2 linked regions of the Homo sapiens genome follow. The protein of the gene in region 1 interacts with the protein of each later gene in a pairwise test. Each region holds a gene or a part of one and is shown on either strand. Other genes may lie near its edges.

Region 1 (4,935 bases):
AATAAAATAAAGATAAAATGCAAATAATCATAACAGATACATAGACATTGCTATAGATCCTACTTATATTGAAAAGAAATACAAAGATATTGTAACAATTTTATGCCAATACATATATATTCAGAGGAAATTGACACATTCATTGAAAAATATAACTCACTGAAACCGAACAAAAGACAGAAAACATGAATAGGTTTAGATCATGAGGAAATTAAATCTGAAATTAAAATCATTTCCCAACAGAAAACACCATTCCAAGATGGCTTCACTGGTGAATTTATCTAACATTAAAGTATAATTTTACACAAATTATTTTAGATAATAAGGAGCATGAGAGCACATCACAGCTCATTTTAATGAGGCTTACATAACATTGACCCCAAACCATAGCAAGTGCATTAAGGAGGGGAAAAAAAGCTAGTATCTCTCATGAACATAGGTGCAAACGTTCTAAACAAACTATTAACAAGTCCACTCCAATAATACATACACAAGATAAAATGTGACTAAATGGAGTTTATTCCATCAAAGCAAGGTTGATTTAATTTTTAAAAATCGATATGTGTTATGTATAATATCACATTATCTCATTAAAAAGCATGTATCTAGCGGCATAACTGTGTGTATTAAGACCTAAAATATAGTATCCTGATACTTTACTACACACTTTAAAGGTGTTAACTTATTTCATCATCCCCACAATTTTCATGAAATAAGAATGATTATTTTCTCTCAGCTGCAAATACATGGCTGAAACACAAAGTAACTGGCTCTAGATCATGTAGCAATTAAGTGACAGAGCTGTGAATCCAGTTTAGATAGGCCTGACTGGAGCACTTCATTATATTGTCTTTCAGGAGTCTATACCTGATCTGGTGGTCTCTGTATTGGGGTTGCTAACCAGTGCAATAAGGTAAGAAAAAAGGTAAAGCAATTGGGAAGAAGCAAGTATTGCCATATTTTCAGCTTACATGACTATGCATATACAAAATCCAGAGGAATCTACAAATTACTAGATTTAAGAAATAAACTTATTGAGTTTACTAAACATCGTAAGACTACACACAAAACTTAACTGTATTTCTGTGTACAACAATAGAAAAGAAAAAATATTTAAAATATATTATTAAAATCACTAAAACCACCAAAACAAGATATACAAGGTTTTTAAACTAAAAATGTCAAAACATAGCAATTAAGTTAAAGAAATTCTAGTTACATGAAGCGATACATGATGAACATTGATTAGAGATTCAGTAGTAAGTTGCCAGTTCTGCATAAGTTGATTGATAGACTCAATGTGGTCCCAGTAGAAACCTCATCAGGATTTTGTAGAAATTGAGAAGCTGTTTCTAATATTTATATGGAAATCTTGACTTTAAGAAGAACAAAGCTGGACTATAGTTACAACTATAAATGTACAATAATTAAGATAGTGTACTGTTTGACACAAGCATCAACAAATAGACTAGAATAGACAGCCCAGAAACAGACACACACACATACAGTTACCTAACTTACAAAAATGCACCACCCTAGTTCAGTGGAGGAAAAATGGTCTTTCCTACATAGTGCTGTCTCAAGTGGATATCTATTCTACCAGGAATAGATAGAATGTTTATTAATAAAACTATTAGAAAAAAATGGAAAAATATCTTCATGATTTCAAAATCATGAAAAATCTCTTCATGGTTTCAAAATCATGAAAAATATCTTATGATTTTGGGATGGGCAAAAATTTCTTAAACATGACACAAAAAGCACTAATTTTGAAAGAAAATATGAATAAATAAGACTTTCTCAAAATTAGGAAATTTTGTTCATCAAAATTCAACATTAGGAGCAAGTCAAAAACTAGCAAAATATTTGTAATACACATTAAAAAGGACATATTCAGAATGTAAAAATAACTTAAAAATCAGTAAGAAAAATATTGGCTAACTAATTTAAACAAAATACAAAAATGTGAACGGGTACTTCACAAAAGAAGATACCCAAGTGCCCAATAAGCATATAAAAAAGTGTTCAACCTTATTACATGTTGGGGAAATACAGATTAAAACCATGGGGAAATATCACTTTACATCCACAGGAATAATGAAAATCAAGAGAACTGAAAACATTGACTTTTTACAAGCACATAGAGCATCTAGGACTGCCACACATTGCCGGTAGGAGCATAAATTCATACAATCACTTAGGAAAACTGGTAATATCTACTAAAGCTGAATACATGCTTTCCTCATCCTCTACCAGTTCCACTCCTGGATAGGTAGTGAAATTAGTGCACCATGTCCACCAAAAGACAAGTCCAGGAATGTTCGTGGGTTCTCTTCCTCATGGCCAAAAATTGGAAGCCACTTAAGTGCCTATTAACAATAGAATGGATGAACTGAGGAATATTAATATAAGGGAACCCTACATGGCAATGAAAAGGATGAAACTTTTGTACACATGACATGAATGAATCTCACAGACTTAATTCTGAGTAAACAAGACATACAACATTACACACAATATGATTCCAACTATACAATGTTTATAAACAGACGAAATTACTGTGCAGTCATGGAGGTCAGAATAGTATTTTCCTAGGAGTTAGTACTAGGAGGAGTTATAACGGGGCTTCTAGGGAGTCAAAAATGTCCCATATCTTAATCTAGAAAGTGAGTATATAGGTATGTATGTGTGTGAGAATTTGTGAAGCTGTTTGCTTGAGATTTGTTATTTATGTTCTTTACATGGTTTAATATCTCATTAGAAAGAAAACAGAGTTCATAGAGAAAGTTACAAAATAGATTTTCTTAATACCTGAAACTTGGTAAAAAGCTGTGGTATTAAACTGTGGTGATGTCATTAGGGGAGCCCTCTACCCAAACAGAAAGGAAGGCTCAACAGAGCACAGGTGTTTGTTGTAAATGGAAAAATAAATCCGTCTTATTTTCATACTGCAGCAAGTTAACACTATCGAAAGCATTACAGATTAATTAAACTAGATAATTAATGTAGGATGCAAAAGATAGGGCCTCATAGTATATATTAAAAATATTATATAATTAGCATGACTACTACTGCTGCTGCTAACTACTACTACTACTATTATTGCTTTGTTGGTGCTGTTAGTGATCATTTTTAGTGATTGCCCACAAAAGGAACAATACTGGATATGAGGAAATTGATATAATTTATCTTTTCAAGCATACTGTGGGCCTGTGGGTTGCAGTAAAAAGACAAGGAGGGCCTGAGTGATATGACCCTTCAGATAGGGAACTCACAGACGGCCAGATGGGAGGTGGAGCAGGGGACGTCATTCCACTGGCCATTTTTCAGTAGCAATACACAATCTTCATCAGAACCAGCATTGTTGGGTTCACCCTCGTTCCAGTTTGTGTAGGTCAGTCTATTTCCTGTCAGATCCACAAACTGCCCTTCTGTCTTCTCATCAGTGATGCCCAGGAAGGCTTCCTCCTTGATGAGATTCTGAATGGCTCCATTCTCTGCAGCATTCCTGGGGGTGGCCACAGAGGCCTGGAACTTGACACACAAGGCCTTCACTTTTTCAAAGGTCATTATTTCACCATTGGTCAGGAAGAACTTGTTCCCAACTTGTTTGCCCAGAGAGAAGGTGAGCCCTAAAATGTGAAAAAGTGGGTGAAACTGACTCATCCTTAAGCCCAACTCAAGGTATTTCTCAAGAAAAAGTCTTCTAGAGTACAGTTGCCGGATAAAATATAGTATGTCCAGTTAAATTTGAATTTCAGACAAACAATGAATATTTTAGTATATCTCCCATATAATTTTTCAGACACACTTATACTAAAAATGTTTTTCAGCTGAAATCCAATTTAACTGGTGCTTTGTCTTTTTATTTGTTAAATATGGCAACCCAAATGTGAACAGACAGACTGGTACAAAGGCCTCTCTGTGCTTTCAGATCAGAATTCTAAAAGACATATAATTTGGACTTCTGAATTCTAAATTGTTAACTTGAGACCAAACAAAAAATGTCTGAAAATATTTGCCCCAGGCAGGTTAGACCCCACGGCCAGGTCTCAATACCAGTGCAACAAAGGGATATAAGTCCCATTTTCAGTGAGCAATATCAGACGGTAAAGGATTAGGGTCTCTCGAGTCAGACTGACTTCCATCTATAAACCACCCCTGCCATTTATTAGCTCTGTGCATTTGAACAAGTAATTTAACTTCCCTTTGCCTCCATTTCTACCAAAATGTTGTGAGAATTTCATGAGGTAAGAATATGAGAAATGCCTAGCAGGGTACAGAAAATTATATGCATTCAACAAATATTTGTTGCATTCTATTTTTCCCAAACTTCAAGCTGCCTGGAGAGTAAGAGAAAAAGCTTACACTTTTTGATACGTGCCATTTCTGTTTGCAGAGCTTTTCTTTCTGAGGCAGCCAGGCTACTATCACCATCTAGAAAATTAGAACAAAGTAAAGAAGCATTGTTGAGAAGGAGCCTCAGAACTGTGCATATACAAGGGAGTGGAGTATCTTTTTCAAACTGAAAAAAAAAGCTTATTTTACATTGATGTTTACACTTTGAAGGAAAATAAAAAATACTGAAAAGCCCAAAGAATGAAAAATCGCTATTTCCATCCAACCCCAAATGTCCCTCTTTGTCTGTTTACTGTATCCCAAAGTACGCATACATATCACATGCACACATATACTCCCTGATTACCTAGCAATCCATATGCCAGGTTCTTCACAGATTTTTTTTTCAAATAAATTGTTCTATCAAAACTAAAAAGAAATCTCTTGAGGCGTTACTCTATTATGACCTGGTGAAGAGTGACGAAAAAGATTGCAGAGTTTTTGTCTTTGGAGAGGTTTTGCTTTTGATGTCTTTTGTTTTGTTTTTGTTTTTTCCAGGTTTGTTCTGTTAGTCAGGAAACCAAGATTTTTGTGAGT
Region 2 (6,893 bases), on another chromosome or scaffold:
TTTACAACGGTCCTGAAATACACAATCAGCATTTCTTCTCCCCTTCACGCTGCTCTCGTTACCCCATTTGGAGTCCCTTCTCTACAACTTTGTTTGCAACCCCTCCTCTCCGGTGAAGCCTTCTTGATTACTCCACACTGCAAGTTTCTCCCTCCTCTGGGTTCAGTGACTGATAGCATCACTGGTACTTCCTGCGTGCCACGCATCACTGTCACCTCTTGTGAAGATAATGTCCTCCCAACTAGACCGCAAACTCCTACAGAGCCAGGTCACAGTGAAGACATCTTAATGTTCCTAGATGTGGCACACGCCTAGCACACAGCACTTAATTATTGAGATTATATTGGATTTTAGAAAAGTTTTTGTTTGTTTCTTGTTTTCAGAGGCACAGGCCATGTATCACCTCTTTCTCAGAAATCCCCTAATCGCTGACCCACATAGCACACAGGCATTGGTGCTCACCTTCCAGGGGAGCCCTCAGCCTTAGCTCCCCTATCCTAACTGGGCAACAGAAACAGCTCAAGGTCCAAGAAAGCATTAAAGAGACTTCAGGCAAGTGGCAAAATGACAGGAGTGAGAGAGCTGGGTGTGCTGTGGGGTCCAGGCCTCGCCTCTAACACAGAGCCCCGAGGGTGGCTGAGGCCTCTTGCAGTCTTCAGCACCACCGTGGAGGGAGAGCGCTGGGCTGCAGCACAGGCGTCGGTCTGGCTGGTTACCGGATCCTTCCACTGCAAGGATCCACAGTGTGAGGAAGCTTCCTTTGTGCTGTGACCCGCACTCACCTGAACACATCATTCCAATACTCCTTTACGTAGGACACTTGATGGAAAGGGATGTCTAAGATCTGGCAAACTCTGTAAGCATCTTCACAGTCTTTGTCGGCAGTACAGACCCCATGTTCATCCAGTGAGTCCCAGTTCTTCATAAACACCCCTGTCACCTGGTAACCTGCGGGCGGGAAGGTCAATTAAAGAGAATACATAAATCAACCTTCGGTAAAACGGCAGTGATTTCTGAGCTCTGAGAAGTTCCCCACACGCTGTGCTCCTGTGCCTCTGTGCCTGGCCTGCCGGGCAGTCCCTGCTTTGCCATGTGGCTTCAGGGATCCGGTTTCCATCTTGGTGCCTGAGTCCCCAAGATTAACGAGGTGGTATTTTCTCATCTTTGTGTCCCCATCTATGTATCAGCACAATACCTAGCAGGAGGGGATCAGCCAGTGTGTGTGGAATACACGAAGGAATAGTCGAAACTCAACAAAATTTTTCAAAGCACCATTCAGTTATCAAAAAAGGAAACTCTTTTCAAAAGTTATTTCTAGTTACTATCTAAGACTTAGATTCTAAGTGATCAGATATAAAGATAATTAAAATTTTCGATATTTTGTAAGAGCTGTACCACCTAGTTTATGACCTATTTTCTACCTTTTCGATTGTAACAAAATATTCACCCAAATATTGGAAAGGCCAACTTTAGCCCTACACCACCTTAGCAAACTACACAGGTGCAGACCCTGTATGAGAAAGCTGGTTCGTTTAGGTAGGCTGAATGTAATGAAAGACAGGGCAAATGACTGCTGAAGAAGGCTTCATATAGTACCCAAAACAACAGAAATTTGATGACAAAGCTTTGTCAAAACTACACCACCACACGCGAAAGACCACCCCTATCCCAGATCAACCAGACTAATGTCTACCTAACAGTCTAAAGCCCCTGGTATAGCATCTTCCATAATCAGGGCTAAACGTGCTCCAGGCTCCTCTCCTTCCATCTCCATCTGGCCAGAACCAGCCCACACTTGCAGGCCTCTGTGATTCTGCTTGCACTGCTGACTGTGCCGGGAGGGCCGCCTCCACCTCCAAGTCTCTGCTTAGTGACATCCTACTCTTCTTTCGACTCAGCTGAGCACCTCCATCTCTAGGATGCTTTCCTCCACTCTCCCTTCCTCACAACTATTTCTGCTTATGGTCCGCCTACCCTTCTCTTTGGCACTTACTGTACCTACCATAATAGCTATGGTTATTAACAATATAAACTAATAGCCACTACTGTTTTCTGCGTACCTCGTATGTGCTGAGCACGTACTCATCAGTATGTACTATGTCATCTAATCCCTCCAGTCACCCCGTGAGGCAGGTGTTAGCCGAATTTTACAGGGGACGGCTTAATTCACTTGCCCAAGGTCAGGAGCCAAAGATGGCGCAAAGCAGAGCTCCACAAACGTGACTCTGTGAATGAGGCCTCCCGCGGGGAGCCACACAGGTGAAGTTAAACAAGTGCTCATTTCAGCGCCGGGCCCGAGGAATGCTAAGCACCCGTGGGGCTCCGTTTAGATGCCGGAAGAAATGCAAATGCTCCTGGAGAAAACTTTGTCCTCCAGCGAGCGGAGAACACAGGAGACGCTGAACAAGCAGACCCGCCGCGCGGCAGTTGTCCAGTCTGCTGAGTGGGGAGGACAAGGACCTCCCACCGGGCGGCCACAGCGTGTGCAGAGGTCAGGCCCCCGGCCCGGCGATCCCAGCTCCCCTCACCAGTGTCCACGGTCTCACAGGTGAATGTGGACGCCGCAGATCCGTGAGAAACCCTTCCCTCCCCACCCCACCCCGGCCCGCCGGCTTCTCACTGTGGGTGGGCGCGCGTGGGTGGAGAGGGGCGCGGAACTGCTCCCAGGTAGTCGGAGCTGCAGTCGCGCACACCTCCGACTACACAGGTGGAGGGCGAGGAGCCTCCGAACCAAAGTCAGAGGACGGGGTATCCTCCTGCCGACCCGCGCGCAACCAGCGGCCCAGGGAGGGAGGAGACGTGCACAACGCCACGACGGACGGGGACAGGTTTCCGGGGACACATTCGCTCGGCGGGGGGCGGGAGCCTCGGACGCCTCACCTCTCCGCCTCAGCAGCAGCGCGGCCACGGCGCTGTCCACGCCGCCGGACAGGGCGCACACGACGTGCCGCAAGGCCTGCATCCGCCAGTCGCCCAACTTCGCCAGCTGCAGCTACCGCCGCTTCCGCGCCTTGCCGGAAGTCCCGCCCCGGCCGTAGGGTCCGCGCTAGTGGCCCGGCCGGAAGCTGCGGCAGCTTACCCGCGTTCCGTCCGGCCTTCCCCTGTCCCGCGGCGGGTTCCCCTGTCTCCGGCCTGCGCTCACCCCTGAGGCTCCACCGACCCGCGGGGCGCCGAGACTCTGTCGGGCCGCGAGGGGCTGGCTTTTTTTTTGAGCCGCCGCCTTGCCCTCCCCACCCGCGCCCCGGCCTCACTGCTCTTCTTCTGCGCTGTAAACCAAAAATAAAATTCTAAGCCCCCCAGCCAGCCATTGGAGGCCTCCTCTCGGCCAAGGGCGTCCTAGAGGGAACCTGAACCGCGAGTTCGGGCTCTGATGGGAAAGGCCGGGTGGGACCCGCCTCACTAGACCCTCCTCCTCCCTTTGGAATTCGGACCAGCATTAACGTCAAAACAGACTTAAGACTGTCTAGGCGGACTCTCCGTAGCAATAGGATACCGACATGACAGATGGCAGGCCCTGAAAGATATCGAAGTATTTTACAGTATTTTAATTTAATTTAATTTTTAATTAATTAAATTTTTTTGAGATGGAGTTTTGCTCTGTCGCAGGCTGGAGTGTAGTGGGCGCGACCTCGGCTCACTGCAACCTTCACCTCCAAGATTCAAGCGATTCTCCTGCCTCAGCCTCCCTAGTAGCTGCGATTACAGGCGCCCGCCACCAAGCCCAGCTAATTTTTGTATTTTTAGTAGAGACGGGGTTTCACCGTATTTGCCAGGCTGGTCTCTCACTCCTGACCTCAAGGGATCCGCCCACCTCAGCCTCCCAAAGTGGCGGGATTACAGGTGTGAGTCACTGCCCCCGGCCCAGAAAATCTTTGAATCCACCTATGACCTGGAAGCCCCACCCCACCTTCGAGTTGTCCCACCTTTCCGGAACCAATGTTACATCTTACATGTATTGATTTATGGCTTATGTCTCCCTAAAACGTACGAAACCAAAAGCTGTAGCACCACCAGTTTGAGCACGTGTTCTCAGGATCTCCTGGGACTATGACATGAATAAATATCTTCAAATCTTTTACAGTTTGACTCCAAGCATACTCAGCACTCAATCCTTAATGTCTGTGAGGTGTGTTGGACAGGGGTTTTGTGTTCTGTCCACTCCTACTCCATGCCCAGAAAAGCCCCTGGCCCAGGGCAGGTGCTTCATAACCTCGCTGAATAAAGGAAGGAGGAGAGAATGGAGGTCATCCCCCAGGGGTGATATTCAAGCTGAGTTCTTCTCTACGAGTTAGCATCTAGACAAGGTCTACCTAAAGCACAGGGAGACTCTGAACGAAAAAGATGTTCATTTGTGAATAGGGCATTGCAATGGGAATATGCATGCCACAATAAGCTATGTGGGTATTCAGGGAAGTAAAGGAAGACAAAGGTTTTTATTTTATTTATTTATTTTTTTGAGACAGTCTCACTTGGTCACTAGGCTGGAGTGCAGTGGCGTGATCTTAGCTCACTGCAACCTCCGCCTCCCGGGTTTAAGCGATTCTCCTGCCTCAGCCTCCGGAGTAGCTGGGATTACAGGCACATGCCACCACACCCAGCTAATTTTTGTATTTTTAGTAGAGACGGCATTTCACCATGTTGGCCAGGATGGTCTTGATCTCCTGACCTTGTGATCCGCCCGCCTCGGCCTCCCAAAGTGCTGGGATTACACGCGTGAGCCACAGTGCCCGGCCTAGGAAGACAAAGGTTTTTAAAGGGAAAATGAGGATCACATCATTGTTTTGAGATAATTCTTTGGCTACAAAGATCAATAACAAGGGTGACAGCACTCCAGGGTTGGACAAGCAGTTGCTGGGCAGATGTCCTTGCAACAGAAGTTTTTTGTTTTTTTTTTTTTTTTGAGGAAGGTTACGATAGCCTTTGTGTAAAGTTGTGGTTTTTGCAGTCTTTTGTGATAGTTGTTATTATTAGGCACATGTGCATGAGAACCCTCCCTTGTGGTATGAACCCAAAGTACCTGAGACAGGTTTCAATTTAGAAAGTTTATTTTGCCAAGGTTAAGGACATGCCAGTGACACAGCCTCAGGATGATGTCCTGAGGATATGTGCCCAAGGTGGTCGAGGCACAGCTTGCTTTGATACATATTAGGGAGACACAGGACATCAATTAATACGTGTAAGATGTACACTGGTTCTGTCTGGAAAGGCGCAACAACTGGGGGTGGTGGGCAGCTCGCAGGTCATAGGTAGATAAGAGATAAACTGTTGCATTCCTTTGGGTCTTTGATCAGCCTTTCACTGAATACACAATCTCCATGTGAGAGGCAGGTAGAGGAACAGTCACTGATGCCTTAGTCTGGCTCAGTGAATCTGCATTTTCACATAAACAATAGGGCAGAGGAAGCAATCAGACATGCATTTGTCTCAGGTGAGCAGAGGACTGATGGTGAGTTGTCCATTGTCTGGCATCTGTGAAGATAAGCTATCAATTTACATTGCCAGGGTGAAATTCAACAGAACTATTTTAGGGTAAAGATCTCGAGGTCCACGAGGAATTTCCAAGAAGAAAAGCAGGAACTACCAACAGGAGAGCCCTGGGGACTGGTGCCAGGAGGAGCTGCAAGACAGGAGGGAGGTCACAGGGCCTGTGGGGAAAAGGATGACCACTTTTTCAGAATAAAGGATCAGGAAAATACCCAACAGGAGGGCAATTTCATCTTGCATTTCCCGGAAGAGATAAGGAAATCCAGTATCTGGGCAGCTGAGTTTGTGCAGATTTAGAGGTACACGTTTAGGCTGTGTCTAAACTTGAGTCTGGGTCTGGGGGCAGGCCCTCCTTGGGTGTGGCAGGCTGATCTAAGGTTATGGCAGGTTAAGTCCCAGTTGCAGCCAACCCGCAAAATGGCTGAGATCCATGCTCACATATTTTCTGCTACTTTTTGGTTAACTATATGGTATTTTAGGTACTCCGTAGCTCCAAGAGGCCCCTGTGTATCACCCAGGTCCACTACAGGCTAGTTATGGCCAGGATGACGACATCCCAGGTGCCGCCTGCCAACAGCAATGTCAGAGACGTGGATTTCAGAGATGTAAAATGGGAAGACATTTGCTCCACAAAATTAATGAAATGTGGTAAAAAATCACATGAAGTTGGACGTCTTGGACCTGGGAGGGTGGCCCTCCAGTGGCAGCTGAGGTGTTCGGTGCCATCCTATGGAGAAAGGGGCTGGCCCTCCTGGGGCCACGGAGCCCTTCAGTCTCCAACTAACTGTGCATCTTCCCACCCGGAGCCCTCTGAGGGGTGAACCAAGGGCCTGTGTACCAGGAGAGGGAGTGGGGGAGCTCAGACTGGGTGGCTTCGGCAGGAAGAGCCCAGTGGAGAAACCCAGACAGAAAGGAATGGGCCTGGAGCCTCAGGACAGGAGCAGCTCTGCTCTGTCCAGCTCCTGCTCCTGGGCCCTCTTCCTGTCTGTCTGTAGAGAGTTAAAGTCAGATCACTCTGTCTGGCCTGGGTACCAAGGAGAGCCTGGCTGCACTGAAGCCGCACCGGGGAGGGGAAGGGCACAGGGGGGAGGAGCCCCAGCAGCGGGATTGGGGCCACAGGCCAAAGGCTGGGCTCACCCCCAGGGCCTGAATGGAGACAACTGAGGCACAGCTTGGTTACAGATGAGCTGGGAGCTGAACATCTCCCTCCTCTACCCAGTGGGAAGCCCTAAGAGGGAAGGGGTACCTGAGCGCTGCACCCCGCTGCACCCAGCAGAAAACAGCCTGACCCATAGCAGAGCCTCAGTAAATATTTGCTGCATGGTTTAATCCAATTTCAGATTTCCTTTTCTACCCCTGGGAAATGAGGGCCAGACCAGAGGTTCCCTGAGGACCCTCCGGTGTCACTA

What was found.
Region 2: the proteins of MBL2 (region 1) and TRMU interact in binary tests that used the Homo sapiens proteins (3 or more experiments, as listed by UniProt).

What each region holds. Positions count from the first base shown.
Region 1 is NC_000010.11:52,764,879-52,769,813, forward strand, and holds the end of MBL2 (mannose-binding protein C precursor), read right to left. Parts: intron 4,438-4,935; coding exon 4,369-4,437; intron 3,633-4,368; coding exon 3,259-3,632; 3' UTR 502-3,258; downstream 1-501. UniProt on the Homo sapiens protein: Calcium-dependent lectin involved in innate immune defense. Binds mannose, fucose and N-acetylglucosamine on different microorganisms and activates the lectin complement pathway.
Region 2 is NC_000022.11:46,331,834-46,338,726, reverse strand, and holds the start of TRMU (mitochondrial tRNA-specific 2-thiouridylase 1), read right to left. Parts: upstream 3,014-6,893; 5' UTR 2,963-3,013; coding exon 2,881-2,962; intron 949-2,880; coding exon 783-948; intron 1-782. UniProt on the Homo sapiens protein: Catalyzes the 2-thiolation of uridine at the wobble position (U34) of mitochondrial tRNA(Lys), tRNA(Glu) and tRNA(Gln).